Regions from separate parts of the Homo sapiens genome. Here regions 2, 3 and 4 are each reported to be linked to region 1. The links are microRNA targets in miRTarBase. Many come from high-throughput screens and were not tested one by one. Region 1 holds a microRNA gene; each other region holds the end of a gene's coding sequence. Distances are between the middles of the regions.

Region 1 (7,243 bases):
CCTTAGGGCAATGTTCAAATTAACAGTCATTCCTTGGCACCCGCTCAGGCCCCATCCAGAATCACATTCCCCTGATTGTTTGCTTACGTCCATCAGATGGAACACACAGGTTCCTAACAAGGCCCAAAGTTTAAGTTTTGTGGTGGCGCCTCTTGAACCTCTCTTACTCTAGATCAGGCGCCGCCCCCGACCCCCATTGCTCCTCCCACCACTTGTGATTTGTTGCAGAAACCAGATCAGCTGTCCTGCAAATGTGTGGCCTATCGCGCTGCTGTTTGCCTCTCTGTGGTGTCGCCTCGCCCCGTGTCTCCTGCAAATGGAAGCTGTGCCGCAGAAACGCCCTTAGATTCAGGCTCATCTTTCTTTGCCAGAAGCCTTCGTGGGCAGAGCTGTGAGAGCCACATGGAAGCACCTGTAATGCTAAGTGTGCCCTGTGGGTCCAGGTGGCCATCGCCCGGACCCACCCTCTGATGCTAAGTGTGCCCCGTGGGTCCAGGTGGCCATCGCCCGGGCCCACCCTGAGATGCTAAGTGTGCCCCGTGGGTCCAGGTGGCCACAGCCTGGGCCCACCCTGTGATGCTAAGTGTGCCCCGTGGGTCCAGGTGGTCATAGCCCGGATCCACCCTGTGATGCCCTAGTTTTGTCATTACTGATCTCATCCATGACCCTTGCGAGAAATACTTATGTCATGAGAGGTGGCAAAATCATGGTTTCTCTCATGATCTCATCTCCTTCACAATGAGTAGCTGAAATTGTTCTGTTAAAAACAACAACGACAAAAAAGGCTGGGCACGGTGGCTCACGCTTGTAATCCCAGAGCTTTTGTGGGCCAAGGTGAGAGAGGCCAGGAGCTTGAATCCAGCCTGGGCAACATGGCAAGACCCCATCTCTACAAAAAAATAAAACATTAGCCAGGTGTGGTGGTGCGCGCCCGTAGTCTCAGCTACTCGGGGGCTGAGGCAGAAGGATCCTTTGAGCCCAAGAGGTTAAGGCTGCAGTGAGCTGTGATTACACCACTGCACTTCAGCCTGGGCGATGGAGCGAGACCCTGTCTCTTAAATAAAACAACCAAACAGGCTGGGTGTGGTGGCTCACACCTGTAATCCCAGCACTTTGAGAGGCCGAGGTGGGTGGATCACCTGAGGTCGGGAGTTTGAGACCAGCCTGGCCAACATGGTGAAACCCCAACTCTACTAAAAATACAAAAAATTAGCAGGGCCTGGTTGCGGGCGCCTGTAATCCCAGCTACTCAGGAGTCTGAGGCAGGAGAATCACTTGAACCCAGGAGACAGAGGCTGCAGTGAGCCGAGGTTGTGCCATTGCACTCCAGCCTGGGCAATAGAGCAAGACTCCATCTCAAAAAAAAGAAACCAAACAAACAAAAACCAAAAATACTTGCTGTTGTCCACTAGAGTTATTGAGTTATCCTGAAATATAGTTTAAAAGGGAAATTCTTAATTCTTTTCTTTTAATTGACAATGTTCTGAATAGAGTTGGAGGCTTGTTTTTCCAGTGGATTACCGATGGGTTTTGGTTTGCTTTCTCTCTTTAAATCTATTTATAGCTTTTGTGTATTCATTGTGTATTCAGCAATCATACACAATGAGTACACAAAAAATCACACAACCAATACACAAAAGGTAAAAGTAGATTTAAAAAGTGAGACACCAAGGCTTGATTTTAGGCTCAATTTGTCCCCTCTTTGGCCAAAGATTTCTAATTTTTTTCCCCTCAAAACTGGTAGGCCAGGGTGCCAGGGTGCCGTCCCATCAGTGGTGGGAGGAAAGGGTAGTTGCCCCAGACAGTGGGTGAATGCCAGGGTGCCAGTGTCAGGGAGGGGAGGGGCTGGTGGGTGAATGCTAGGGTGCCAGTGTCAGGGACGGAGGGGCTGGTGGGTGAATGCCAGGGTGCCAGCATCAGGGAGGGGAGGGGCTGGTGGGTGAATGCCAGGGTGCCAGTGTCAGGGACGGAGGGGCTGGTGGGTGAATGCCAGGGTGCCAGCGTCAGGGAGGGGAGGGGCTGGTGGGTGAATGCCAGGGTGCCAGCATCAGGGAGGGGAGGGGCTGGTGGGTGAATGTCAGGGTGCCAGTGTCAGGGAGGGGAGGGGCTGGTGGGTGAATGCCAGGGTGCCAGCATCAGGGAGGGGAGGGGCTGGTGGGTGAATGCCAGGGTGCCAGCATCAGGGAGGGGAGGGGCTGGTGGGTGAATGCCAGGGTGCCAGCGTCAGGGACGGAGGGGCTGGTGGGTGAATGCCAGGGTGCCAGTGTCAGGGAGGGGAGGGGCTGGTGAGTGAATGCCAGGGTGCCAGCATCAGGGAGGGGAGGGGCTGGTGGGTGAATGCCAGGGTGCCAGCGTCAGGGACGGAGGGGCTTGTGGGTGAATGCCAGGGTGCCAGCATCAGGGAGGGGAGGGGCTGGTGGGTGAATGCCAGGGTGCCAGCATTAGGGAGGGGAGGGGCTGGTGGGTGAATGCCAGGGTGCCAGCGTCAGGGACGGAGGGGCTGGTGGGTGAATGCCAGAATGCCAGTGTCAGGGAGGGAGGGGCTTGTCGAAGAGAAACTTTCTTCAGGGCCATTGATTTCCCTGCCTTGTTTGAAGTGCCTGGATTGGGCTCTCTGAAACCAACAACATCTTATTAGAAGACAAGGACTTCTTCTCTTTTCTTTCTTTCTTTCTTTTTTTTTTTTTTTGAGACGGAGTTTCACTCTTGTTGCCCAGGCTGGAGTGCAATGGTGTGATCTCGGCTCACTGCAACTTCTGCCTCCCAGGTTCAAGTGGTTCTCCTGCCTCAGCCTCCCGAGTACCTGGGATTACAGGCATGCGCCACCATGCCTGGCTAATTTTTGTATTTTTTAGTAGAGATGGGGTTTCTCCATGTTGGTCAGGCTGGTCTCGAACTCCCGACCTCAGGTAATCCTCCCGCCTCGGCCTCCCAAAGTATTAGGATTACAGGCGTGAGCTACTGCTCCCGGCCTTTTCTTTCTTTAGAGACAGGGTCTCTCTCTGTCACCCTGACTGGAGTGCAGTGGCATGATCACGACTCACTGCAGCTTCGACCTCCCGGGTTCAAGCGATCCTCCCATCTCAGTGTCCTGAGTATCTGGGACCACCACGCCTCACTAATTTTTGTGTTTTTTTTTTTTTTTTTGTAGAGATGAGGTCTCGCCATATTGCCCAGGCCTGGCAGGTGTTTCTGATAGTCACAAAGCCCCTGCTACTGGGGAAAGAGAAAGGAAGGCCCAGCTAAGACCCAATTAAGAAAATCCCAGAACCAAGAACGAATTGACTGTTCGGCTTTGGTAATCTCCAACGTGTCCACCAGGTGGTGCTGTCCAGCCACGAATCTCCCAGCTTTGATCTCGGGCTTTGGCCGAGGGCACCTCCAGGGCTGGGGTCTCTCATCGTGTTGTCCCCACTTTATTCCAACGTCCACCCCAGGCCTGGGGGAGCCCAGGGAGGACCGAGTCTCCTGGGCCCCGCAGGGCGCACAGAGGTGAGTTTGGTGGTGCCGTCCCGACCTCGACAAGCATCCCAGCGAAGCAGGCTGAGCGCCCGGCTGGCTCCCTCAGGTCCCCTCTTCCGGGCCTTCTCCGTCCTGTTGATTTGGGTGTTTTAATGCAGGAAAGTAGGACACTGGTTGTCACCTGCCTGCTCCTACAAGGAAAATGCATGTTTGTGTGGTTATCCGTGGCCACCCCCACCAGGGCCTGCGGGGGGCCCAGTGCAGTGGAGGTGGGGAGGGGACTCGTGGGCTCCAGGATCCGTGGAGAGTGAGTGTCAGCGGGAGGGCGTCCCCCGACCTTGGTCAATGGAAGCTGCTCTTCCTGGGGGTCCTGCGGGAGGCCCGTGATGGGGGTGGGGGAGGAGGGGTAAACACCGGGCCCTGATTGGCCGCCTGTCCTTGGGTCTTTGCTGGTCCTAAGAGGGAACGGGGAGCACAGCTGGGGTCACAGCCTCAGCTGGGACTCCTGCCCTCCAGCACCTCAGCATCCTCCCTGCGGGTGCTCTCCTGGGGGCTGCTCAGGGCAGGTGGCAAGTAGGGGGCTGTGGGACCAGAGACAGGGGGTGGACATGCCCAGGGCCTGCCCTTTTGGCCTGCCGTGGAGACCCACCCAGGAGCACCTGGGGGCTGACCCTCCCCTGCAGAGAGCAGGGTGAATCCCAGCCCTGCCCTCACCTAACAGCCGGGTTCGAGGGGAGCGTAATTTATAATGAACCCCACTCCTCCCCCAACACCCGCCACAGGCAGGAGCCAGCCTCTCTCCTGACACCAAAGTCATGCTCCTGACCCTGCAGGCCACAGGGTGAGGAGGACCCAGAGGGGCAGCAGGGTGGGGGCGTTTCATAAGCCAGGGAGAGCTGCCCCTGTACATCCTCAGGCCTCACAGTGGAGTGAGGGGCGGGGGTCGCCTGCGTCCTCCACAGGAGCTCCTGTCATTCCACCTCCGGGGGTGCACTTGCCGACTTACCCCAGCCCTGGACTCACAGGCTGTGCTGCTGTCTGCCCAGGGCCTGGCGATTGCTGCGCCCATGATGGGTCCCACAGGCAGGCCCTGCCCTCCCATCGCTGGCTTCTGAGCAGGGGCTTTGGGGCTGCTGGACCTCAGAGGCAGAGCCGGGGCTTCTGGTGTCCCTATGTCTTGGATGCCTGGTGTCCTGAGGCCAGCGCCCCCCAGCTTGCACTGGGACCGTCCATGGAAGCAACTCCTCTTTCATCTCAGGCACTGGGGGTCCCAGGGCCAGGGAAGGGGCTGCGCAGCACCTCAGGAGCCCAGAAGAGCTGCCCGCCAGGGAGGAGGAGCTGGGGGGAGCAGAGGCCTGGACCAGCTGGGATGTTCCCATCGGCGTGTCCCTCCCGCCCAGGCCACGTGGGCAGGGGAGGAAGAAGGGAGGAGGAGCGGAGGGGCCCTTGTCTTCCCAGAGCCTCTCCCTTCCTCCCCTCCCCCTCCCTCTGCTCATCTCATCATGAGACAGCTGGCAAGGGCCTTCGGCTGCCCTGGAGTGCCCCTGCCCTGGCCAAGCTCTTGCCGCCCCCTTCTTCTGGAGGTGCCAGATGGGGCGGGCCCAAGGCAGTGGAGGTCTGGGCCCTGGCTCCAGCTCTGTCTCCTCCTGAGGGCCCTGGAGGAGCCAGGAGGAGGGCCTAGCAGGGCCGGGCAGATGGTGGGCCGGGAGGAGGGGCTGCCTGGGTAGACGGACCGACTGGCAAGACAGATGGTGGACCAGGCAGGGGTCCGGAGCCCGCCCCATCTGCTCCAGTCCCTGGTGGGACTTTTCTTGTCCACCTCGGGCTGAACTGGGATGGACTGTGTGGGTGGCTGTGGCCCAGGCCGGATTCTGTCACACTGGGTCCTCTGTCCCTGGGGCATGGCCAGCCGGGTGCTCATCTGGGGTCTTGAAGCCTCCTCCTGGCAGCTGGCACGTGGCTGGAGGTCATCATGTTTCGGGGGCTCCTGAGGGTCTGGGGGCCATGACTGAGCAGAGCCTGGGGCGCGTCCCGGGAATGAAGCCACCGCTGCAGATGAGGGGCTTTGTAGGTGGGTGGGTGACTGTAGCCCCTGGAGGGGCTGCCTGGGGCCCAACGCTGATAGGGCCCGGGACAGGAAGATGCTTAGTCACGTGTTTGCGCTGCAGGTGCACCCCCAGCCCAGGCGACATCAACGGCCAGCCCCACACACGTGAGGAGGGATTGTGGGCCCAGGGGCGCTCAGGATGGGGCCGGGCTGCTTCTCAGAAGAGGGGACGCTGAGCCCAAGCAGGCTGCACTCCTGCTTGGACGGAAGGTGGATGGGTGGGGTGGGAAGGGGTGGGAAACGCCCAGCCCTGATGGGCTTGCGGGAGCCTGCGGGAGGGCCTTGCGTCTAGCTAAGGCGTGGGGAGCACCTCCCGTGGCCCCGTCCTTAGACCCCCGAGGGGTGGGGCGCTGCGGGTGGATCCTGGGGGTCTGAGGGTGCCAGGAGGATTTCTCATGTTGAGTTCTAGTGTTGATGATGCTAATCCAAAAAATACCTGAACCAAAAACCAATTCCAAAGAAAATCCCGTGCAGCAATGGCTTTCGATCGGCTGCGGCTTCTGTGGAACAGCTTCGGTGTCTTTGGCGTTTGGTGTTTTCGGACAGGCTCGGAAGTCACGCTCCCCAGGCTCAGGAACCCCTCCTTTAAAGGAGGTCGGTCCGTTTCCTCAAGTCACAGGAGCAGACGCAGGGTGGGGGCGTGGGGCGTCATGGGGAACAGCAGGCGGGGTGCCAGGGTCAATGTTAAGGTCCAGGTCACTCTCCAAGGAGCCCGCTGAGGGCTCAGGGCTCAGGGCTCAGGTGGCCCTCCTGCCCGCCCCACCTCTTGCTCCCTCCAGCAATGTCTTCCTGCTGCCAGCTCTGGGAGCCGGAACGCTGCCTTCAAGGCTGGGCCCATCACGAGGACAGCTGCGCACTGTCCCCTGCTCACTTCCTGTCAGTCTCTTCCTGATTTCCTCCTTACACTCAGTTCTCTTGTCCCCTTGGCCTCTTAGTGGCTGGGTGACCTTGGGTAAGTCACTCACCGTGTCTGAGCTTCGGTTCCTTCAGCTGGGAAAAGGCAACAGAGAAGTTCCCACCTCATAGGGTCCTGCAGCAATTCACTGGGTCAAAGCCCTCAGAACCCTCTTCAGCTCAGAGTGAGCGCCTCCGGAGTGCTCGCTGCCATTATTGTTATTATTATTATTGTTATTATTATTGCTATTTTTGAGACAGGGTCTTGCTTCATCACCCAGGCTGGAGTGCGGCGGCACGATCCCAGCTCACCACAGCCTCAACCTTCCAGCCTCAGTGTTCCTCCCACCTCAGCCTCCCCAGTAGCTGGGACCACAGGTGCGCCACCACACCCGCCTAATTTTTGTATGTTTTTGTAGAGACAGGATTTTGCCATGTTGCCCAGGCTGGTCTCAAGCTCCTGAGCTCAAGTGACACATCTGCCTCAGCCTCCCAAAGTGCTGGGATTACAGGTGTGAGCCACCGTGCCCAGCCATTGCTGTTGTTTTAACTTTATTTTTAAAATTTTATTTTATCCAGGTGAAATTCTCATAATATAAAATTAACCATTTTACAGTGAACAATTCAGTGGCTTTTAGCACGTATGCAGTATCGTGCAGCCACCACTGGTACAGTTTGGATTTATGTCCCCACTCAAATCTCACGTTGAACTGTAACCCCTAGGGTTGGAGGAGGGGCCTGGAGGAGGTGATTGGATCATGGAGGCCGATTTCCTCCTTG
Region 2 (7,243 bases), not on the chromosome of region 1:
GGCTGAGGTAGGAGAATGGCATGAACCCGGGAGGCGGAGCTTCCAGTGAGCCGAGATCGCACCACTGCACTCCAGCCTGGGTGATAGAGCGAGACTTCATCTCAAAAAAAAAAAAAAAAAAAAAAAAGATAGGCTTAGGCTTGGCCTGACATGGTGGCTCACGCCTGTAACTCCAGTACTTTGGGAGGCCATGGCAGGAGAATCGCTTGAGCCCAGAAGTTTGAGACCAGCCTGGGGAATGAACAAGACACCATCTCTACCAATGAACAGATAAGCTTTTTTTAATCCAAAAAATAAGAGGTTGGCTATAATTCCTCACAGTTAATAGAATGGGTTTAATAGGAAAGGAAAGAAGGTCATGGCTAGAAAGTAGACACAAATATGTAACCACGGGAGCCAGTGCGTGAGAGCCGTGCTCCTGTGATGGCGTCTACTTTGCCCAGCTGTGGCAGCTCTGGCAAAATGAGGAACCAGTCAGCTGGGTGATTCTTATTATGAGGAAAGAGGTGCAAACCAACATAGCCTTTAATTAGGAATACTGGGGGACGTAATATTCAACAGTCCACAGCAGCCCTGAGCTATTGCATGGATGGCCCTGGAGCCAGCAGGGGATCCTGCCGGTGTCTGCGGTGCTGTCAGAGCCCTCAGGGTCCCTGCGGCAGCCTCTCCCACCCTCACTTGCCCTGTCTTCTTTTCCAGGTCACCCTGCACACAGGATTGGAAGTGCCGACTAACCTGGGGCGGCCAAAGCTGTCAGGCAATTAGCCCCGCTCCAGCTCGGCACTGTGCCTGTGACAGTGACATTCACAGGCAAAACGCCCACCATTCTCACTAAGCTCAAATAACCCACAAAAGCAGGATATGCAAATCATGGGTGCAACCTGGCAGCGTGGAGTGTCATAGAAACACATTTTCTTGGGGACGCAGGGAATGGGTCCACGGGCCATGCTCACAGCTGCCACTGTCAGTGGCAAAGGAAGGTACGTGTGTCACCCTTATTCCACCCAGACATTACGAACACTCCCCAAGAAGGACCTTTCTCAAGGGAGTCAGCATTCGGGCTTCATGTCTATGTTTCCTGCCATCTGTTTTCAAAGCTTGTCTTTTTTTGGAGGGAGAGGAAGGTAGACTTTGAGACTGGCCTCCTGAGAGCGGCAGTCAGGAGCTGCGCTGTAATCCCACGCCCCGGGTGTTGGCCCTCCGTGGGGACCTTGCCTCCTCAGAGTCCCGAGATTGCAGATTCTCATCATGCTGAGAAAGTTATCTTTTAGCTTCTTGGTCCTAGAGTCTTTAGTAGCACCTGCCACTTGCAGACCCAATGCAGGATTGATAGAAAGGGACATTAATCATTCATGCTTGACTTTTGCCTCTCTCACTGAAGTGTTAGAACCTTTTAAAATGGCTTCCTTTATTAATCAGCCAATTGTGTTCTCTCTCTCTCTTCCTCCATCCTTCATTTCTTCTCCCTCCCTCCTTCTCTTTCTCTCTTCTTCTCTCTCTCCTTCCTTCCCTCCTTTGCTCTCTCTTTCTTCCTTTCCTCCTTCTCTCTTACTTTCCTCCATCCCTGCCTCTTTCTTCCCTCTTTCGCTCTCTTTCCCTCCCTCCTTCTCTCTCTCTCTCACACACACACAGGCATGACAGTCTCCTAAAATTAATTCACTCAGTTCTTAGTTCTTAAATCCACGTGAAAACACAAGAATTTTAACAACTATGTCATAGGTCTTCGCCTGGTGATGGCTCCTTTCTGAAACTGGCAGCCCAAGAAGTTAACTGAAAATGCATCCAGATTGCTCTTCTGAGCTGAACCACTCTCAGACTCATAAGCATTTAAAATGGGAGACCCTGGGAAAGCCTGTTCTAGTCAGTCCACCCTATTGTCATTATGAAAGCATCATGAACACAAGTGGCCCCTGTGGCAGGCCGGGACGGCTCTGCCCTGATGCAGTGGGCGGGATCTCTGGGGAAGGCAGGAAATAGAAGGGCAGTATCAGGTACCTTGTCTCCCAGCTTCCCACTGTGAGACTGGGTGTGCCGAGTCTGACCTGCCAGGGCAGGACTCTGGAAACACCAGGCTTCTCCCTTGAGATCCACATTGATTCATCCACACCTCTCAGAGACAGCTCATGGCAGGGGTTTTGAGCCTGCCAGGCTCTTGTTCCCAGGGAACCCTTCCTCTCCTCCCTCCTCTCATCTTCCCAGTCACCTGCCACCTCCAGCTCCACCTGGTAGTAACATTTCTCTCTCCTTTTAAAAAGAATATATTTTGTCAAGCATTTTATTTCTGAGGCTGAGAAGTGACTTGTCAATTTGCTGGACTGGATTTTTATAAAATTCGCCCATTCACCAGCACCAACTGTGCGTCCTTGGTTCTGCCTTCCTGTTCAGACACCGCGCCTGCTTTCTGAGTAACTGCCTGCCGGAGCCATGCAGGTACCCCCCCTCCACTCAGCAGGCCCGACAATCCTACCTCAAAGCTCATGCTCTTGGTCTGCAAGGCTGCTTGGTCCGCTGTCTCTGCAGATGTGGCCGGCAAGGCCAGCTGCCCCGTCTCCAGGAGCTGCTCGGTGCTGTGTTGCAGTCTCTGCTGCGGAGCCTGGGAGCTATCTGCTTCATGGAAGTCTAGGTCTTGCCTCTTCCTTGTCATCTCACCAAGCGGTTTCTGGGTCTCCTCCTCCCATCCCAGAGCCCTGTCCAGAGCTCTTGGTGGTGACACACAAGACCTGGGACCCTGTGTCCTTGCCCGCACCTCTGCCTCTGTCTCCCATATCCCTGCAGCTTCATCCTTAGCCATAGCTCTGGGTGGCCTTTGCTTGGAGCATGGAGACGATCCCTAAAGATTGAGGATGAAGAGGAGCCACCACTTTCCTGGGGCCAAGGAAGCCATCAGCTTTGGGAAGTGTCTAGCTCTCTTCTGAAAAAAAAACAGGCCTACACCCTGCCCCCAGAATGAGAGTGGGCTAGGCAGGGCTGCCTGGTGACAGCAGCTTCTCACAGGGGAGCCCTGGGGAAGGCTGTGGAGCCTCCACCATCACCACAGCCCAGGTCACCAGGTGGCCCCAGCTCTGCAGAAGAATCGCCCATCATTGGAGCACAAGTTGCCTGGGGCTACCCTGAACCTAACCCCTTTGAGGGAGCAGCATCCAGGTCAGGAGAGAAGTGGAAAGTGCAGGAGGGTAATGCCCTCAAATCCGGTGGCCTCTTTCAGAAAAAAGTTCCCTGAAGTCCAGAGAGGTGCAGCCAGGACTCCCTCCTCCCCACTGCCACCCTGAGCTTGGGGGCTGGGATTCTCCCTTTTCTGACTCCTCCAGGAGCCCAGAAGCAATACGGCCGATGCCAGGGACAGCATCCAGCTCTCCTTCACAGACACCTCTCCTGTCTTCAGCACAAAACACCTTCAATGTTCTGACTTCAAAGAGAACGACAGGTCCGTGCCACACACTTGTGTTTTTGAGGGATCAGAAAAGTGAAGAAGGAACTTATCAATTCCTCATGGCCAGGAAGGTCCCGGGTTTCAGAGTAGAAATGACAGACAGGTCATGGAATTCTCATCCACCATCGAATTCCATAACACGTTACATCATGGTGGCACATTTGTACATACATATAAATGATATCAAGATGAGGCTTTTGTTGGGCTGGCTGAGGAGTAACTTGGTGTAAATCTATCAAGCAGTTTCAGTGAAAAAGGAATTCAAAGTAGTTTAAAAATGTCGAGTTCCATTGCATTGTAAATAGTGCCTCTGTAATGTGGTTCTGCAGTTGTTCTTTGCTAGTGAGCAAGCTTGGTCAAAGTGTATGCCTTTTCCTTTTAAAATTAATCTCTTCCGAAAATATCCACTAGCACCTCACTGCATACATAGCATCCCAGCTCCTAATTCAAAGCAGGGGAAGGTATTTCCCCAAAGCCTGCTTTTCCTCTCTCTGTTCTCCTTGGGAAAATAATGATTCCAATTAAAGAGGACACCAGTAATACTGACCCACAAGGTAACTGACCTAAACACTATAAAACTGTATATATTTCCAGGCTGCATCTTCAGCCTGATATGTACTTTGTAGTTGCAACAGCGCCCTAGGTGCCCTATGGCCCACCAAGTTTGAGGAGGGTGGTGCTTTCCGGATTGAGCCTGGGCAGGCTCTGTGGAGCTCACCAAGAGAGCTGGGGGCAGGCCCACCCTCCTCTTTGCGCCCTTTCTCTCCCTCTTGGTGCCCCTGCCCTCCGCCCCACCACAGCACTCTCAGGAAAGGATCAGAATGCAGGATCTTTGTGTATTTCTTCCAGGGATATTTGCATTTAAGCCTTAATTCTCATTGCAAGCGAAAGGCTTGGTCCCCCTGGGAAGGCGGGTTTCGGCACCGGTGGGCAGGTGGTTCAGTGTCAAGGAGGCTGCTGCTGGTCCCATGGCCACCTGCTGGCTTTGAGGTAGTGAGGGAGGGTCAATCCTTAGGGGGAGTCAACATGTGAATGCTAAAGAACACTGCTGCACAGCCCGTGGGGTGGCGCCAGGGTTTCTCAACCTCTACTGACATTTTGCGATAGGTTCTGTATGCCGTAGGATGTTTAGCAACATCCCTGGTCTCTACCCATCATCTGCCAGTAGCAACCCCCAAGTTAGGTGTGACAACCAAAAGTATCTGTCGACATTGCTAGGTATCTCCTGGGGGCCTCCACAAGTTGAGAACCACCAGGTTATGCCAGTGGTTTGTCATGCATGGATCTGTAGAGGGACTGTGGCGCTCCGGCTGCTTTGTTCCATAGAAAGCCTGTATGTGACAAAGCTGCCAGCCTTTATCTTGATACCCAAGCCCAGGATTTTCCATGTGTCTTCAGGGGGCAGGTAGGGGAAAATGGGGTGAGCCACCTCCAACAGATGCCAACCTGTTGGGTCTTGAATTTTCACTCACTGAAGATGCCCCCTGCCCGCTCCCCACTTCCTAGAAAGCAAAACTCGTTACCTTTGTTTTCCTTGGCCACATTTTACTGGAAGCAACAGGAACTTCTTAATGGGTTTGTGGCCCTCAATTGGTTTTTAAAAAAATCTAACAGATCTTATTGGCAAATATTCAAGATGGTGATGCTGGAAAATTTCAGGACTTTTCTTTTGCAAGTGAGCCGGTAGCTGTGTTTGTTGACCACATTCTTTGGCAGTTCCTCCCAGAAGATCAAAGGATCCTGCAGCTTTAACCTAATATCTAGGCTGTAAAAATATGAGGGCAGGTTTCGGGCAGGATGTATTGATCAGACACCAAGTTCAGCCCTCGGTTACTTCCCTCTTTTAACCTGGCTTTAATAGTGATTCATGGTATGAGTGGGGGCCAATCTCTTATCCTTTCTGTGCCTCAGTATCCCCACCTGAAATGAGACTAGTCATACTAACCTACCTCCTCTGATGTATTGTGAGGATTATACAATAACATTTTTAAAGAAAAAAAGTGCAGTCTTTCATCTCTGGCATCTAAGCTAATGATTCCCATTCAGTGACTCAAACCTGTGGGGGGCGTTCCAGTGTTCTCTGACCAGTGTCTTCCATCCAAGCCTCCTTGTGACCAGGGCAAGGAGCTGCCTGGCCTCCAGTGGGTAAAATAGACCTTTAAGACAGGTTTCCTATGACCATAGAAAGTAACACCCCATATGTTTCCATTCCCGGCGAGGCCTGTTTGAATGGCGCTCTGTGTGAGTGCTATGAACAGGCTACCTGTCAGCAGTCTCACTGCGAGGCCTCAAGGCCTCTGTGAGCAGAAGCCCCTTTAAACCAAGGAAGGACACTAACCCAGGCCTCTGCCTTCTTTGTTACCTAAGTTCTGGTATCTAAGGGGTCTCTCATCTCACAGCTTGCCTCCTTTGTTTCGAGGGGTCTCTGCAGTGTGAATGGGTTTGAAATCCAGTGTGGATAGCACGAAGAGATGCAACTGAGCCGAAGTTTTGAAGGCTGGTTGGGCTAGTGGGTCATCATGTCACTTTCAGATGACTGATAACCGCTGGGACTGCTGGGGCTTCACCAGCACGAGCTATGCAGGTTGGGGGAGGCCCTGGCTTTTTCAATGATTGACGTTGACATCAGTCAGGAGCTGGGAGTTGAGACCTCCAGGGAAGTCTCGTCCGGATCCATCGCTCTTCTCTCAAGGAGCACAGTCCTGGGAAAGGCCTAGGGACCTGTGGGCCGGTGATGCGGGCACTGCAGACCAGGCCAGGCCCTCGGGTAAAGCTCTGAGGAGAGGCCAAAACCAGGCTTCAGGTTCGGGAAGGTGACTGCTTGCAACTGCAGTAGCAGGAACATGTCAGGTGCTTACTGGGTGAGACCCAGCCGGGGAAGCCTCTCCAACTCCTCCTAGCCCTGGAAACCAGACACCCAGAGCCCCAGGCTTTCTCGGCACCCAGAAGAAGTGGGGAGCGGGCAAAGCAGAAAACATTCAATGCATGATGTAGGATTGCTGCGTTGGCACTAAGCTGTTGTATTAAGCATGAGAGGTGTTTGTTTAACGTTGGCAAAGGGATTTAACAAGAAACAAAAAGCTTCGCGTCCTTGTTTTGACCGTCGACAGAAGTCCAATTTTCTTGCCTTTCTTTATCCCCATTTCTCCTCCCTCCCCTTCCCCCATCACATCCACTTTCGGTCACTCGTTGTTGGTATTTGGTGGCAGCTCTTGGTCCTATTGCTGTGGATGTTCCACTGAAAACACGGGGGGTAGCGGGGAGTGGTAAGGAAAGCAACTTTTTTCTAATTTTTGTATTGGTATCCACAAGCGTTTGTATTTTTTGAATTGCAAACACTGTGTTTTCTGGTCTTTGGGGGTTAGTTGAACTTTCTGTATTACCTTTTGGAAAACCTGAGTTTTACCACAGTCTTAAGCAGATTTGAAATAAATTCTTTTGACACTGCCAACAACAGAAAGACAAGATGTGGTCTGTAATTCCTGCTCCGTGGTCAGGTCTGCCTTTTTCCCAACTGGCCCTGACTGCCCAGCAGACAGGGCAGAGGCTACAGGAGGGGAGGCCACACGGTCTCTTCCCCCAGTGGGGCTGGGCGTTACTAAGTAGCAGGGTCAATGTGGTTCTGCTTCGCGTGCCCAGGAAATCTCAGGGTGATTACATATGACTCTAAACTAGGCTGGGTGCTGTGGCTCACACCTGTAATCCCAGAACTTTGGGAGGCCAAGGCAGGCAGATCACTTGAGGCCAGGAGTTTGAGACCAGCCTGGGCAACATGGTGAAACTCCGTCTCTACCAAAAATACAAAAATTAGCC
Region 3 (7,243 bases), not on the chromosome of region 1:
TAGGTGTCCTGTCTGTACCCCATAGTTTCTAACAGTGCCTGCCCATGGGGTCCTTCACTGATGCTTGTGTGATCTAAGCAACACAGGGTGGTTACCCCATCTCCCATCACACACCTGCTTTTCCTGCTTCCTCTGCCCACCCCCACCAGATGTGGGGCTGGAGGAGATCCAAGCCATTGACATTGGTGTTGGGAACCCAAAGGCTGGCTCCTCTTCCTTCCTGGACGCTGGTACATTTGTCCTGAGAATGAGGGTGTTCTCTCTAGGGGAGAAAGGGACTGAGCAAATTTGGTGGCATGATGGCTCTGGGCTGAGGCACCTGGCTCCAGGGAGGTAGGAAGGCAGACACCCCAGGAGGTGTTGCAGTCCCTTCCCTGTCCCTGCACCTGCAAGCAGCCTCAGTAGGGTGCCCCCCTCCCAAGAGACTCCGATGGCAGAGAGGGTCTGCAAGCCCATTAGAGACCCTCTCCCATCCCAGCCCCCATCTTCTACCACACCTTAGGGGTGTGCAGGATTTTACAGTTTACAAAGGGCCCCAAATGCAGAGTCTCATTTGAGCCACACAGCAGCCCAGCTGTGTGTGGGGTGGAGGTGGGGGTGACTGCCGCATTTTCTGCAGAGAAACAGGAAGCTCAGATTGCAGGAGCATCTGCTAGAAAGCCTCAAGGCCTGGACCAGACCAGTGCCACCACTGGGGTGCGGCAGGGGCCCAGCCAGTGTCCCCCATTCCCATTCACACTCCCACATGCTCCAGTTTCTCTTCAAGGAGGGCAGGGGTGACTGTTCCCTTGTCTCAGACTGGCTTTGTCCCCAAGAAAGAGAGGATTACCAGCATTGTGATATAAAAAGACATATATATCGGCCAGGCTTGGTGGCTCACACTTGTAATCCCAGCACTTTGGGAGGCCGAGGCGGGTGGATCACCTGAGGTCAGGAATTCAAGACCAGCCTTGGCAACACAGTGAAACCCCATCTCTACTAAAAATACAAAAAATTAGCTGGGCATGGTGGTGGCAAGCACCTGTAATCCCAGCTACTTGGGAGGCTGAGGCGGGAGAATTGCTTGAACCCTGGAGGTGGAGGTTGCAGTGAGCCGAGATTGTGCCACTGCAATCCAGCCTGGGCCTCAAGAGCGAGACCCTGTCTCAAAAAAAAAAAAAAAAAAAAAAAAAAAAAAAAGACACCTGGGCGCAGGTGGCTCACGCCTGTAATCCCAGAACTATGGGAGGCCGAGGCAGGAGTTATCACGAGGTCAGGAGTTCGAGACCAGTCTGGCCAAGAGAACAGCCTGGCCAATATGGTGAAACCCCCCCACCCCCGTCTCTACTAAAAATACAAAAATTAGCTGGGCGTGGTGGTAGGTGCCTGTAATCCCAGCTACTCAGGAAGCTGAAGCAGGAGAATCACTGGAACCCAGGAGGTGGAGCTTGCAGTGAGCCAAAGATCATGCCATTGCACTCCAGCGTGGGCGACAGAGCAAGATTACGACTCAAAAAGAAAAAAAAGAGACATATATATCTGGTCTTCATCCGGGTTTCTGGTCCAGAACTAAAACTCTTGGAATTTCCTGAGTGATGGGGAGAGAGGAGCATCTTTTGTTATTCATAATGAGTCTCTTTTCACCACACCTGAGTTCACGCTAATGAGATGACTCTTGGAGGATGGGGCTGGTGGCCAGAGAAACCAACCACGTGATTAGGGGATTGCAACTTTCATCCCTACCCAAGACCTTGGGGAGGGAAGAGGGGCTGGAGATTGAGCCAATCACCAGTGGCCAATGATTTAATCAATCGTGCCTAATGAAGCCTCTATAAAAACCCTAAATAATGGGGTTTGGGAGGTTCCAGGTCAGGGACAGCACCCCATCCACATGCCAGGAGGGTGGCTCACTCCAACTCCACTAGGACAGAAGCTCCTGTGCTTGGAACCCTTCTGAACCTCGCCCTCAGTACCTCATCACCTGTTTGTTTATATCCTATGTAACATCCTTTATAAACAAGTAAATGTAAGTAAATGTTTCCCTAATTTTTTTTTTTTTTTGACAGGGTCTCATTCTGTCACCCAGGTTGGAGGGCAATGGCGTGATCTCTGCTCACTGCAACTTCCACCTCCTGACTTGAAGTGATTCTCCTGCCTCAGCTTCTAGAGTAGCTGGGATTACAGGTACCCGCAACCACGCCCAGCTAATTGTTGTATTTTCAGTAGAGACGGGGTTTTGCCATGTTGGCCAGGCTGGTCTCGAACTCCTGATCTCAGTTGATCCACCCGCCTCGGCCTCCCACAGTGCTGGGATTACAGGCGTAAGTCACCGCGCCCGGCCTGTTTCTGTGATTTTTGTGAGCCATTACAGCAAATTATCAAAACTGAGGAGGGGGTTGTGGGAACTTCCAAATTTGGGCTGGTCAGAAGTACAGGTGACAAGCTGGGACCTAGAACTGGTATCTGAAGCAGGGGCAGTCTGCTGGGACTGAGCCCTTCACCTGCAGGGACCGTGCTAACTCTGGGTAGTGAGTGTCAGAACTGAATTTTAGAACAGCTGGCTGGTGTCTGGAGAGTCGGAGAATTGATGTGGGCGCCCCCCTCCCCACTAACATTGGTGTCAGAAGTACTGGGAATGTAGAAAGTTTTTCCTTGTTAGGTATCCAAAAAGATCTCCCACACCTGGATCCCATGGAAGGCAGCTGGGAGGGCAGGAGGTGGCTGGCTTCAGAGAGCCAAGGAGGTCTGGGAAGTCAGGAAATGGGTGTGTGGCTCAGCAGTCAGGGGCAGCGGCACCCTCTTCCCCAACTTCTTCAACCAAACACATGGTTGGGCCACAGCACCACATGGATGAAGGTGCCACCACCAGCCCTGAGAGTCACCGACATTCGTGCAGAGCTTCCCTGGTGTTGCACCAGGATGCAGGACCAGCGTCACGGACTCCAAGCCGGTGTGGAGTAGGAAAGCCCTGGGCAATCCGTCAGTAAGGTCCTTCCAGCCTGGGCTGGAGTCATATCCTCAGCCCCACTTTCTCCAACTCTTTCCTGGAAGCCCAGAGGTGCCACACACAGCTGCTGGCCACACACACTCACATAGTCCCCAGGGCCCTGGCTGAGGCTGGGGAGACCCCTATTGGCCACAATGTGGGGATGAAGTTCCCACCCTGCACAGTCACTGTAGCAACCACCCTGTGCTGAGAACCACACTCCAGGGACCAACATGCACTAGAAAAATGTCACACAGGAATACACACTCAGAGGGCACTCGAGAAACATTTATTGAGCACCTACTATGTGCCAGGCCCCAGGCAGGACACTTGGAAAACAAAGTCAATACAACCTGGTCCCTGCCCAGGAGCTCACAGTCTAGAAGGCCAAGCCATTAATCATAGAACAGCAAAGGGGCATTTGGCTTCACAATTTTACAACAAACTTTTACATACGTTTTCTCAAGTGTAAACACCCAGCAACACAGCCATGTTGTTTTAAAAGCACATTGGCATAAATGTAAACACAAGTCACAGGATTGAAAGGATGAGAGAAAACCATTTGCAGTATTTGTGCTTGCAGAACCAGATTTTTAGCATTATTTATTCCCTCCTATCAGGTAGGATACAAGTTTTGCCAATCTGTGGATAATGGTGTTTGAGACATGGGAGTTCCGTGGCCGGCCTGCCTGCCTGCCATCATGCAGTGGGGGAGCCACACTAGATACAAGGCATCCTGAAGCCTTGGCCACTGCCTTCTGTCCACCACACCTGTCTTTTAATGTCCCCTAGACAAAGACCCTGTATATTTCTAGGCTCCTCCTGAGCTTATCAGATGGGGAGAAGGGATCATGTCCCAGGAGCCCACCAAGTCGTGAGATCCCTCATACCTGGCTTGGCACATGGTGACACCCCATCAGGTGAGCACACAGCACACGCTGCCCAGGCCCAGACCCTGCCTGCCCGAGATGAACTTCCTGGTTAGTCTCAAAATCTGGCAGTGTTGGCCGGGCACAGTGGCTCACGCCTGTAATCCCAGCACTTTGCGAGGTCGAGGTGGGTGGATCACCTGAGGTCAGGAGTTTGAGACCAGCCTGGCCAACATGACGAAAACCCCATCTCTACCAAAAAATACAAAAATTAGCCAGGCATGGTGGTGCACGCCTGTAATCCCAGCTACTCGGGAGGCTGAGGCAGGAGAATCGCTTGAACCTGGGAAGCAGAGGTTGCAGTGAGCCAAGATCGCAGCCTGGGTGACAGAGCAAGACTCCAACTCAAAAAAAAAAAAAAAAATGTGCCAATGTCAGCGTCCTACAGGAATAGCTGCCCTCCAAGTCCCACCTGTGCCCCCACTTCTCCTATGTGCACATTTGTCAGCATGTGCAGAGGTATACAGTCCTGCTTACCACACCTGCCATGGGCTCTAAACAGGACAGTACAGCTGGGGTTTGAGAAGGGGCTGCCTGTGTGCTCCATCTCACCAAAGGGAAAACCACGCACAGATCTGGCCCCTGTTGGTTTAGTTTAGGAAGGTAAGGAATCCGGTGAAGAGACCAAAAGTGGCCTCCTCATGATCCAGGGAATAGGGGAAACCAGCAAGTGTTTGGGTTTAATTAAGCCAAGGGTTGGGGGGGATGAAGGTGGACAGCTGAGGGTGCAGGCCTGTAGGGCTGGAAAAGGCGGGGCTGAGTTTAGGACCCCTGTGCCCCTCACCATCATACGGAAAGGGAGGAGAGGCATCTTTCTACCTGCAAGCTGGTTACCGCCATTTCACTTTAGAAAGCTCAGGATAAGCCGGGCGTGGTGGCTCACGCCTGTAATCCCAGCACTTTGGGAGGCTGAGGCAGGTGGGTCGCCCGAGGTCAGGAGTTCGAGGCCAGCCTGACCATCATAGTGAAACTCTGTCTCTACTAAAAATACAAAAAATTAGCTGGGCATGGGCATGGTGGTGGGTGCCTGTAATCCCAGCTACTAGGGAGGCTGAGGCAGGAGAATCACTTGAACCCAGGAGGTGGAGGTTGCAGTGAGCCGAGATCGCGCCACTGCACTCCAGCCTGGGCAGCAAGAATGAAACTCTGTCTCAAAAAAAAAAAAAAAAAAAAAAAAAGAAGAAAAGAAAAAGCAAGCAAGCAAGCAAGCAAGCTCAGGCTAATTCCCAGCTCCCTGGTTGTGAGCACCCCTGGGCTTCTACAGTGACCTCTTTTGGGCAGAGGCCTACCAGGTGAGCCAGAAGGTACAATGTTAAAGAAAATTGTTTCTGACCCCCTTTCCAGAGCAGAGAGGAAGGGAGGGGGTGAGACGCCCACAGGTGACTGATAGCACAAGTCAGCCCTCGTTCCTGGGCTCCACAGAGGCCTGCCCTGGTGCTGTCCCACCTTCAGGAGAGGTGGCTCCCTGGCTCCCCCCAGGACCATCTTCCAACCCTCCTGCCCCTCAGGGTTGCTCTAGGTGGCCAGGTATCCTGCTAGCAAACCCTCTCCCCCAATGATGGCCCAGACGGAACTCTTAATAAAAAAAAATAATTTATTGTCAACAAAGGTGATATATACAACAGGAAAACAGATGTAAATGAGAACGGGAGTGAATGGGGTGCCCAGGCCCAGCTTCAGGCCTCTGCAGGGGTGGGACAGGAAGAGGTAATGGAGGCCTCCTGGTTTAGAAGCCTGAACAAGTGGGGAGGAGAGGTGTCCCCCGAGGTAGTGGGACTCAGTTCAAACCCCCTTATGACCACTCTTGTGTAAGGCACTGTGCCAAGGGAGAATGGTGGGGAGCAGGGGGAGGGTGGGAGGAGGTCATGGGGGACAAACAGAGGTGGGGGTCAGCGAAGGACTGGGGTAGGTGTTCTCCACAGGCCCAGTGCCCTACTGCACAACAGCCTCAGCCACCCTCGCCGACCTCAGGCCTGGCCAGGAACAGACACTTTCCAGTGCCCCGAAATAACAGTGGATGCTGCCCCAGCCCCCTCCTGCCCTGGCACCTGTTTCTACTCTCTCCACCAGGTGGGTGAGCCAGGCAGCTCTGAGTTATAAGCCACTGGGGGACGCTGCCTCATCCCTCCCTCCCTCCCCAGGAAAGCAAGAATTTACACTCCATTCCCTTTTTCCGGCTTCCCTGCCACAGTGGTGCTGGATTCTGACAGAACTGTGGGCCAGTCTGAGGTGTCACCTGCTCCCACACGCTTGGTGCCCTGGGGGTGCCTGGACCAGTCTTGCAGGAGGCTGACCGCTGGGGGCTCCTCCATCCGCACGCGGATAACCTGGAGATCCAGTGTCCCGCGGAGCCCCGGAGGGGGAGCTGGGCAGGGATGAGAGCAGAGAGCAGTCAGAGCCCCCCAGACACCCCACCACGAGGATGCCCCCTGGAAGCTCCGCAAACTGTACCCACATTTCCAGGGCTTTCATTATGTCCACAGCCCAGTGCCTGGCATGAGGGGAAGCCCAAGGATGGCAGGGAGCTCCACTCCTGGGTGATCGAGGACTGCTGCCAGCTAGAAAATGAGGCGCACAGCCTCCCTAGGGACAAGCCAGCTGAAGCCAGGCAGCCTTCCTCCTGTGTGTATTTTGGCACAGGGACGCCTGGTGCTCGTGCCTCTTCCTGTAACTCCTACCTGCAGCCAACTCCATTTTATCTCAAACTTACTGGGCATCCTAGCCTAACGGGTTCTGCCTGAGTGGGGCAGAGGTGATGGGGTGGGAACACCCAGAAGCAGTCTAAGGCATAGCTGTGCCCACCAAGGAGCTCATGAGGGACTACGTGGGGGACAGAAAAGACCCCTGGCGAACTTCCACCAGGCTCTTTATCTCCTGAGTGTCAACACCTACATCACCAAGACCAGGTGTCCACCTTACCAGTATGGAGAAGGCACTCATAATGGGCAAAGCTGGGCCTCGAGGCAGAGGAAAGAGGACTGAGGACTGCCGTGGCTGCGTGCAGCCATAAAAAACGAGCACGCAACAGGGACGTGTGCAAAGGTTACGTTACATTAGGGCTGGGCATGATGGCTCATGCCTGTAATCCCAGCACTTTGGGAGGCCAGGGTGAGCAGATCACTTGAGGTCAGGAGTTTGAGACCAGCCTGGCTAACATGGAGAACCCCTTTACTAAAATACAAAGAAATTAGGCAGGCATAGTGGTGCACCCCTCTAATCCCAGCTACTCAGGAGGCTGAGGCGGGAGAGTCGCGTGAACCTGGGAGGTGGAGGTTGCAGTGAGCCAAGATCACGCCACTGCACTCCAGCCTGGGCAATAGAGTGAGACTGTCTCAAAAAAAAAAAAAGT
Region 4 (7,243 bases), 3.6 Mb from region 1:
GCCAGAGATGCCTCGTGAGGGGAGGCCACTGGGAGACACGGCTGGGGAGGCCCACAGGGTCCGGAGGACGACATGCCTTCCCTACCCCAGGGAGCCAGGGGACCCTGAGAGTGGAGGCAGCCGAGGCCCAAGGCAGGAGCGCCCTAGCCTCACTGGAGGGAGGGCACTGGAGGGAGGAGCTCATCTGTGGGCAGGAGATGAAGAGGACTCCCAGGGGAGAGGCGAGATGGCCTGGAGGAGCCTGAGCACAGGCTATTCTAGGAGTCAGATACTCACCAACGCTCGCATTCTCTCATCTAGTCCTCACAGCAAGCCCGTGAGGTCAGTACGCATGTCCCATCTGATGGGTGAGAAAACCAAGGCCCACAGTAAACTGATGTGCCCAAGGTCACACTGCTGTAAACTGGGAGTGGAGCCCAGGTTAGCGTGACTACAGATGGAGTCACAACACGGCCAGGAAGTGAGCCCACAGGAGGCTGTGGAGGATTGGATCCACAGCACAAGGGAAAGAGAAGCACCAAGAATGGGTTTCCAGACAGGCGCTGGCACTCCTCATGTGGGGGCAGCAGCAGATTTGGGGAGCGGATGCGTTTAGTGATGGTATCTGTGGGACCCCGAGGCTCTTGGGCTGGTGTCTGCTGGGCTGATGGCACCAGCTAGTAGCAAACCTCAACAGCTGCGTAGGTGCAGGAGGAGAGGAAAACGGCAGGTGACGGGGACTGGAGCCTCACACTGTCCTCCCTCCAGGCAGCCTTCCATCCCAGGAACCCTGCTGGGTGGCCAGTCCTTTCCTGCCCCGCCTGGGCCCCCACAGAAAACATTAACACTCGGCCAGAACGAACAGTCTTCTCACTTCCCCCCACCTCTTCCTGCCCCAATGAAAATAGCTCAGCAAGGCCCAATTTCCTTTTCCTGTCTATTGTAACATATAGGCAAACTTTAAAACCAAGTAATTAAAATACAAAAGTGGATCCCAGGGTAAGTTCGCAAAACAAGGAACATCTTTCATGTCCCTCCCTGTCCGGGAGCCACAGTGGCAGTGACTGTACCTAGCCCAGGGGGCAGGAGCAGGCTCTGCACCTGTCAGCACCTGCTTCTCTCCGTTCTCACACACGAGTGCTGTGGCTCGCACCGTCATCGGAGTCTCAGGTGACACGCATCCTGCTCCTTCCGTGCCGGCTCCTGGGCTGCCCTGCTGGAGACACCATCTGGATTTGGCCAAAGGTCTGGCTCCTGTAATGTTCATTTTCTCTTCCCCAGGTGCCTGGCAGGCTGATGACAATGCCGTCAGTCGGAATGCCCAGCGCCGGCGCTTGTCATCCAGCAGCCTGGAGGACTCTGAGACGAGGCCCTGTGTGTGGGGCCCTTTGGCTGTCTGAGCCCCAGCCTCTGCACTTGGGCTCCCCTCCTGCCCTGCATTCCATCCATCCTCACTCAGCTGCTGCCTACTGGGCATCCTCAGCAAGATGCTGGAGACTTTTTACCCTCCTGTGACAGCTGTTACAACCTGTAACCACAATCCCTCACCTCTCAGAGGGAACTGGAACCCTCCTTTCTCCGTGTGACCTAAAGCCACTCAATGAACTGCAGCTCACGAGACCTTTTGCAGGGACTCTGGAATGTCCTCACGGTATATTGATGTTCAGGTGGAGCTGGGGTCCATGGGCTAATTTCTTACACATCTTTTTTCTCCTTAGGGGGTAGAACAAGAAGGCTTAGAGTTTGGCAGCTTTGTTACAAACATCCCTCTGGCATTTCCTGGTCTCTGGCACATCATAACCAATTGGAAACCTGCAGTTTGGGGTAGGGCTGGAGGATCGCTCCTGTGGAAAGGGAGAGCCATACTGCACGGACGTAGCGTTTCCCTCTACAAGCACTAGGAGCACCTTTCTCAAGGACAAGAAATGGTAGCAACCAAAAGGTTGGTTGAAGGAAACAATCCTTCCTTCTGGTGGCAGAGCCAGTCTTCTGGGCCTCACATGCCTGTGCGGTTAAGAAGGAGCTCTTGGCCGGGCGCGGTGGCTCACGCCTGTAATCCCAGCACTTTGGGAGGCCGAGGCGGGTGGATCATGAGATCAGGAGATCGAGACCATCCTGGCTAACACGGCGAAACCCCGTCTCTACTAAAAATACAAAAAATTAGCTGGGCATGGTTGCAGGCGCCTGTAGTCCCAGCTACTTGGGAGGCTGAGGCAGGAGAATGGCCTGAACCCGGGAGGCGGAGCTTGCAGTGAGCCGAGATCGCGCCAATGCACTCCAGCCTGGGCGACAGAGAAAAAAAAAAAAAAAGAAGGAGCCCTTGAATCTGAGAATCCCCCAGTTAAGATGATTTCCCTTAAGGAGCATTTCTCCTGATCAGGTGCATTCAGGGAGGCCTGCAACTCCATCCTAAGGTGACATTTCAAGAAACACATGTGTTGACCACCTCTGTGTGCCAAGCACTGGGTGAGGAGTGGTCGTATATTACCATAATTCATCCTCACTCAATTGGGAGGTGGCATTCTTGTCCCTGTTGCCCCCATCTCTACCCCCTTTTGTTAATGGTTGAGAGAAATGTGGACCAGTGATTCTCAGTTTGGTGCCCAGGTCCCCAAAGGAAGTGATGGAGAGCCTTGAGCTAAGTTCAGGCAGCAGCATGTGGCCAGCAGCAGTGTGCTGGGAGCAGAGGTTGGAATCAGGGCTCAGGGCCTTCACTTCAAGGGCCCTCCCCAGCTACTCGGGAGGCTGAGGCAGGAGAATCGCTTGAACTCAGGAGGTGGAGGTTGCGGTGAGCCAAGATCGTGCCACTGCACTCCAGCCTGGGCTACAAGATTGAAAAGATCGAAACTCTGTCTCAAACAAAAAAAAAAAAATTCAAGGCTGTTTCCAAGGCAGCCTCAAAAAGAGCCTGGTGCCCAGGGGGTCCTTCGTTTCTGTGTGGCTGCAGAGGCCAGGAGTGCAGTGACTGTCTCACTGCCTAGTGGTTGTGGCTCACATCCTGCCCTGATGGAGAGGGGGGCCTGTCGTCCAACCCTCTCTGAAAAACTGCAGTAGACTTTACCATTTCAGGCCCCACCTAATGTTCTTTCCTTCCTTCCCCCTACATTCTTCCCGCCCCTTTCATAGTTAAGATGCATAAGCTGAGCAATAACCCCACTTCCTGATTTCCCTGAAATATGAGCCCAGAAGCAGCAGGTGACAGGGAGCTTCCCTTACCCTGGGGTGGTGGCACACAGACCACCTCCTGTCCTGTCCCCTGCAGGTAGTATTCACAGTGTGGTGTTACCTGGGAGGAGGGAGGAAGGAGCTGAGATGAAGGAGATTCAGGTAAACAGTAGCCACAGTGGCCAGGACCCCCTTCCTGAGGATCCCTGTCCTTCCTCGCAGCAGGTGCTTAGTCCTCTCCTAGGGAGAAGCACGGAAAGATTCCTCAAGGCCTCAGTCCCATGTCCAAGGCATACCTAGGTTAGAAATGTCCTTTACTTGTTTCTCAGTTACTATTTCTCCTCTTCCTCCCTCCCCCTGCCTTCTCTTGGCTGTCATTTAGCTCTCTGGCCCACAGAAATACTCCATCCAAGGAGCTGGTCCTCAGTCAGCCTGATGAGGACAGGTCAGTGGCCAACCCTTTTGCCCCAGTCCTTCATCTGGAGACAGTCACATAGTCACGTCAACAGTTCACCCAAAGAGAAGAGGTGGGGCCTGGCTTCTCCCACAGGGCACAGCCTAACTATGGAGACCCAGGGCTCCTTCCTGCTGCACTAGGCCTGTGCTCTCCCTATTGCCTTCAGGTGGTGTGATCCCGGCTTCCTCACAGAGCCCTTTTTTCCTTCTGCCCAGCTCCATCCCACCAGAGTTTCTACCCCCGCTGAGGCATCTCCTGGGCACAGACCACCACACTCTAAGCCGGCTGGCCTGGGAGTTAGGGTCCTGCCCACCTCACCTGGGAGTTGGGGTCCTGCCCACCTGGAGTTTAGCACGCTGGTCGCTCACTTTGCTTTGGTCTGCACACCTGGTGTGTGCATGTGTATACTGCTTGTGCCATCTGTGTACCCCTCTCCCTGGAGTACACTTGTGGTCACACTACAGTGGGGACATCAAGAATGCAATATTTATGGATTGCTGCATGATTCTTAAAAATGAATAAAACTGTTTACAAGGGAAGGAGAGCTAACTGCAAAGTGAGCTTATCTGTGAAAGTTTCTGTCTGACTTTCGCCAGCACTCTTTAATACTTTTACTCAAGAGGATCTGGAGTTGGAGGAGTGGGAGAGGCAAGGGCTAGGGAAAGGCATGTTGGCGGGGGAGTGATGCGCCATAGCCGGGCCTTCTTCATGGTCTGGGCACCAGCCTCCCCGACCCCGGCTCTCCAGCTCCTGGGCAGAGGCGGGGTAATCAACCCAGCCCCCACCACTGCCTCTGCAGCCGCCTTAAACCGGAGAACGTCCAACCCTGCAGCTCCTCAATAATTAAAGAGCAGGAAAGCTGGTGACAGGAGGGAGGCCAGGGGAAGGGAGGAGGAAGGGACACAGTCCCCAGAGTCCCTCTACTCTTAATCCCTGTGACTTAAAGGTTGGTGAAATTAATTGGGCAAATGACCCCGCTAGGAGAATTTGACAAGTCCATGACTTCAGAGTTTTACCCACGGGCTCTGCTTCATCAGCTGTCTCCAGAGGAGTGAGTGCGCTTCTGCAGAAGCCTCTGGAATGTCAGCTTCCTGGAACCTCGAGGATACGGGTGGGGAAGGAGCTGCTTACTGGGACACACTGGATTACCCTACCCCCTTGGTGTGTCTGCCGCCTCTGTGGATGTAAGCGGCAGGTGGCATCGGAAAGTCAGACCTGCCTGGGACACCAGAGAAAGACCCTAAGAGTCGGGGGAGAGGGAAAGGCTGCAGAAACATGAGAAAGTGCCACTCGTAGCGGAGAGGAAAGAAAACCTCAAGGATACGGTTCCCGAGCCTGAGCCCGCTCCCAGCCTTAGCCCCCCAACCCCAGGCTCCGTCCCAGGAGCAGTCGACGCCTCAAAGCGTACGGGACAGGAAGGGGGTGGGGGCGAGAGTCTTGGTTCCCCAGAACGAACGGATCCATAGCGGTTCCCGGTGCCGCAGGCCGCGCGCTTCTCCGACCCCAGCGCGGGGCCCTCGGGCGGGAATGAGCCGAGCCGGGACTTAGCGGCGGGTAGGGGGTTGGGTGGCGCGGGAGAGGGCGGCAGAAGGAGGGAGTTCGAAGAGAGTTGCCGCCAGGGAGAGTGGCAAGTGCCCGCGGTCTCCTTGGAGACGTGCTGGCCAATGGCAGAGGCGGAAGCTGTTTATGGGGGCGGAGCGTCGCCATGGCAGCAGGAGAAGCCTTTGGAGCGGCTACTTAATGCCGGTCCCGGGGCCGCGGTAGCTCAGAGAAGCGCCGTCGGGCGGGGGGGCGGCAAGAGGCGCTGGCAGGGCCCCCGAGCTGGGGGCAGAGAGCCGCAGGGGGTGGGAGCAACTTCTTCCAGAACCTTCCTCTGGCCCGGGCTGCGCTCTGAGCCAGGTAAGGGATGGGGAGGGCTGCAGGCCAGGGGGAAGGGTGGGCAACGGTACCAACCCGCTCTCTCATTCGTCCTTAACGGAAGTGGTGGGCCCAGGGACTGACATCGGAGAAGTCTGGGGGAAACTCGCCTCCTGCCCCCCGTTACTGTTCCGTCCCCTTCCTTCCCAATGATCCCCTATCATAATATTCCTTTTCAAGGATCAGAGGACCTCCACCGCCCCCGCCCCGTCGTACCGCCCTCCCAAACTTCTCGCCCCACTTCCATTTGTTGCGAGGAGGAAGGGGGTCCTGATTTCCTGCTCTTCGGGAGAAAAGGATAGCCTCGGATGCCCCTACCCTCTTCATTTGGCTAATAAAACCTCGAAGAGGAAAGGAAGAGGGAGGCAGATCTGATGGGGGTGGGACCCCAGGGCCTTGCTTCTGTTTCCCATACCTCGGCACTAAAAGATCCTCCCCAGCTGCGGGGATGATGTTAGAGAGGGCGTCCCCGTACACACACTGTCCCCTCGGGGGTGGGGTAGTGCTCAGCTCCCACCGTGGTCCTCGCAGGCACCACATACTTATTCGGAGGAGGCGCCCCCGGGGTCGCGAGATGGAAGCGCGCGTCCGGGAGGCCGTGTAACGGGAGCTGCGGGACTCAGCGGGCCAGAGAGCGCGGCGGGCCACCCCCGGCTCAGCCCGTGGATGCTGACCGCCCCCTCGGAGAGTCCCCGCAGACATGGCGGAGAGCTGGCTGCGCCTCTCGGGAGCCGGGCCGGCGGAGGAGGCCGGGCCGGAGGGCGGCCTGGAGGAGCCCGACGCCCTGGATGACAGCCTGACCAGCCTGCAGTGGCTGCAGGAATTCTCCATTCTCAACGCCAAGGCCCCCGCCCTGCCCCCGGGGGGCACCGACCCCCACGGCTACCACCAGGTGCCAGGTTCAGCGGCGCCCGGGTCCCCCCTGGCGGCCGACCCCGCCTGCCTGGGGCAGCCACACACGCCGGGCAAGCCCACGTCGTCGTGCACGTCGCGGAGCGCGCCCCCGGGGCTGCAGGCCCCACCCCCCGACGACGTGGACTACGCCACCAATCCGCACGTGAAGCCTCCCTACTCGTATGCCACGCTCATCTGCATGGCCATGCAGGCCAGCAAGGCCACCAAGATCACCCTGTCGGCCATCTACAAGTGGATCACGGACAACTTCTGCTACTTCCGCCACGCAGATCCCACCTGGCAGGTAGAGGAGGCACGGGCGGCGGCCGCTCCCTCCCCATTCCCTCCTCGCTCCCCACGCTGCACTGGATTCATATCCCAAATCTGCAGGCCAAGTAGGCTCTGCGGTGCGGCCAGCGCCCCAGAAGGGAGCCCTGCAAAGGAGCCCAGTTCTTGCAACTGCCCCTCCTTTGACTTCCAGAGAGAGAGAGAGAGAGAAGGGAGAATGTCCAGAGGTGGAGGGCTTTAGGGGTGCAGAGGCTGAGATTCAAGGGGAAATAACCTGCCATTCATCCAGCAGGCCCAGGCCAAAGACCAGGGCTAGACTCTGCGTGGACAGAATCTCCTTGGGGAGAGCGATGAACTGAAGGCGCATTCTTGTCCCAAGTCCTAGAATTCCTAGACACTGCCCTGCCCCGGGATGGTTTGTCGGGGCCGGGAGTCAGAAACGGAAACTGGAACGTGGCCTCCCTGCCAGGCTCTACGTCCTGCCCTTTTGCAGTTGGCTTGGGGAGGGTGGAATGGAAGGGGTGCCTTAGCATGTGAGGGCCA

Evidence for each region. Region 1 holds the annotated microRNA hsa-miR-4739 (AAGGGAGGAGGAGCGGAGGGGCCCU, at 4,885-4,909, shown strand). A microRNA usually pairs through its seed, bases 2 to 8, with sites in the 3' UTR of a target mRNA and lowers its output. Matches are read on the target gene's strand: a 7mer-m8 pairs with bases 2 to 8, a 7mer-A1 pairs with bases 2 to 7 and ends in A, and an 8mer does both.
Region 2: the mRNA of TRIM67 is a reported target of hsa-miR-4739. Seed matches in the 3' UTR shown: 7mer-m8 at 1,466-1,472, 7mer-m8 at 1,597-1,603, 7mer-m8 at 2,177-2,183 and 7mer-m8 at 6,578-6,584.
Region 3: the mRNA of SPINDOC is a reported target of hsa-miR-4739. The part of its 3' UTR that is shown has no 7-base or 8-base seed match.
Region 4: miRTarBase lists RNF157 as a target of hsa-miR-4739. Seed matches in the 3' UTR shown: 7mer-m8 at 3,491-3,497 and 7mer-A1 at 3,751-3,757.

Annotation. Positions count from the first base shown.
Region 1 is chr17:79,704,882-79,712,124 of GRCh38, reverse strand. It overlaps MIR4739 (microRNA 4739), which reads left to right and starts at 4,876; the gene lies at 4,876-4,949. LINC02078 (long intergenic non-protein coding RNA 2078) reads right to left here and starts at 4,859. Exons shown (of 2, transcript NR_109783.1): 1 at 4,469-4,859; 2 at 1-3,653. RefSeq lists enhancers at 437-986, 3,774-4,395, 4,396-5,017.
Region 2 is chr1:231,214,676-231,221,918 of GRCh38, forward strand. TRIM67 (tripartite motif containing 67) reads left to right here. Exons shown (of 10, transcript NM_001004342.5): 10 at 700-6,890. The coding sequence ends at 765. Among named protein-coding and RNA genes, the nearest start is that of FSAF1, 23 kb to the right of the region's middle. RefSeq lists enhancers at 286-787, 701-810, 2,502-3,001, 6,152-6,652 and a silencer at 1,911-1,970.
Region 3 is chr11:63,825,944-63,833,186 of GRCh38, reverse strand. SPINDOC (spindlin interactor and repressor of chromatin binding) reads right to left here. Exons shown (of 6, transcript NM_138471.3): 6 at 5,471-6,259. The coding sequence ends at 6,048. Among named protein-coding and RNA genes, the nearest start is that of MARK2, 9.5 kb to the left of the region's middle. RefSeq lists an enhancer at 21-840 and a silencer at 1,649-1,866.
Region 4 is chr17:76,139,371-76,146,613 of GRCh38, reverse strand. It overlaps RNF157 (ring finger protein 157), which reads left to right. Exons shown (of 19, transcript NM_052916.3): 19 at 1,261-4,140. The coding sequence ends at 1,379. It overlaps FOXJ1 (forkhead box J1), which reads left to right and starts at 5,369. Exons shown (of 3, transcript NM_001454.4): 1 at 5,369-5,500; 2 at 6,050-6,716. The coding sequence starts at 6,219. RNF157-AS1 (RNF157 antisense RNA 1) reads right to left here and starts at 6,058. Exons shown (of 8, transcript NR_040017.1): 1 at 5,934-6,058; 2 at 3,266-3,384; 3 at 1,528-1,692; 4 at 1,050-1,192; 5 at 277-340. RefSeq lists enhancers at 937-1,116, 685-1,232, 1,207-1,266, 1,233-1,781, 6,943-7,243 and silencers at 5,374-5,533, 6,212-6,281, 6,342-6,531.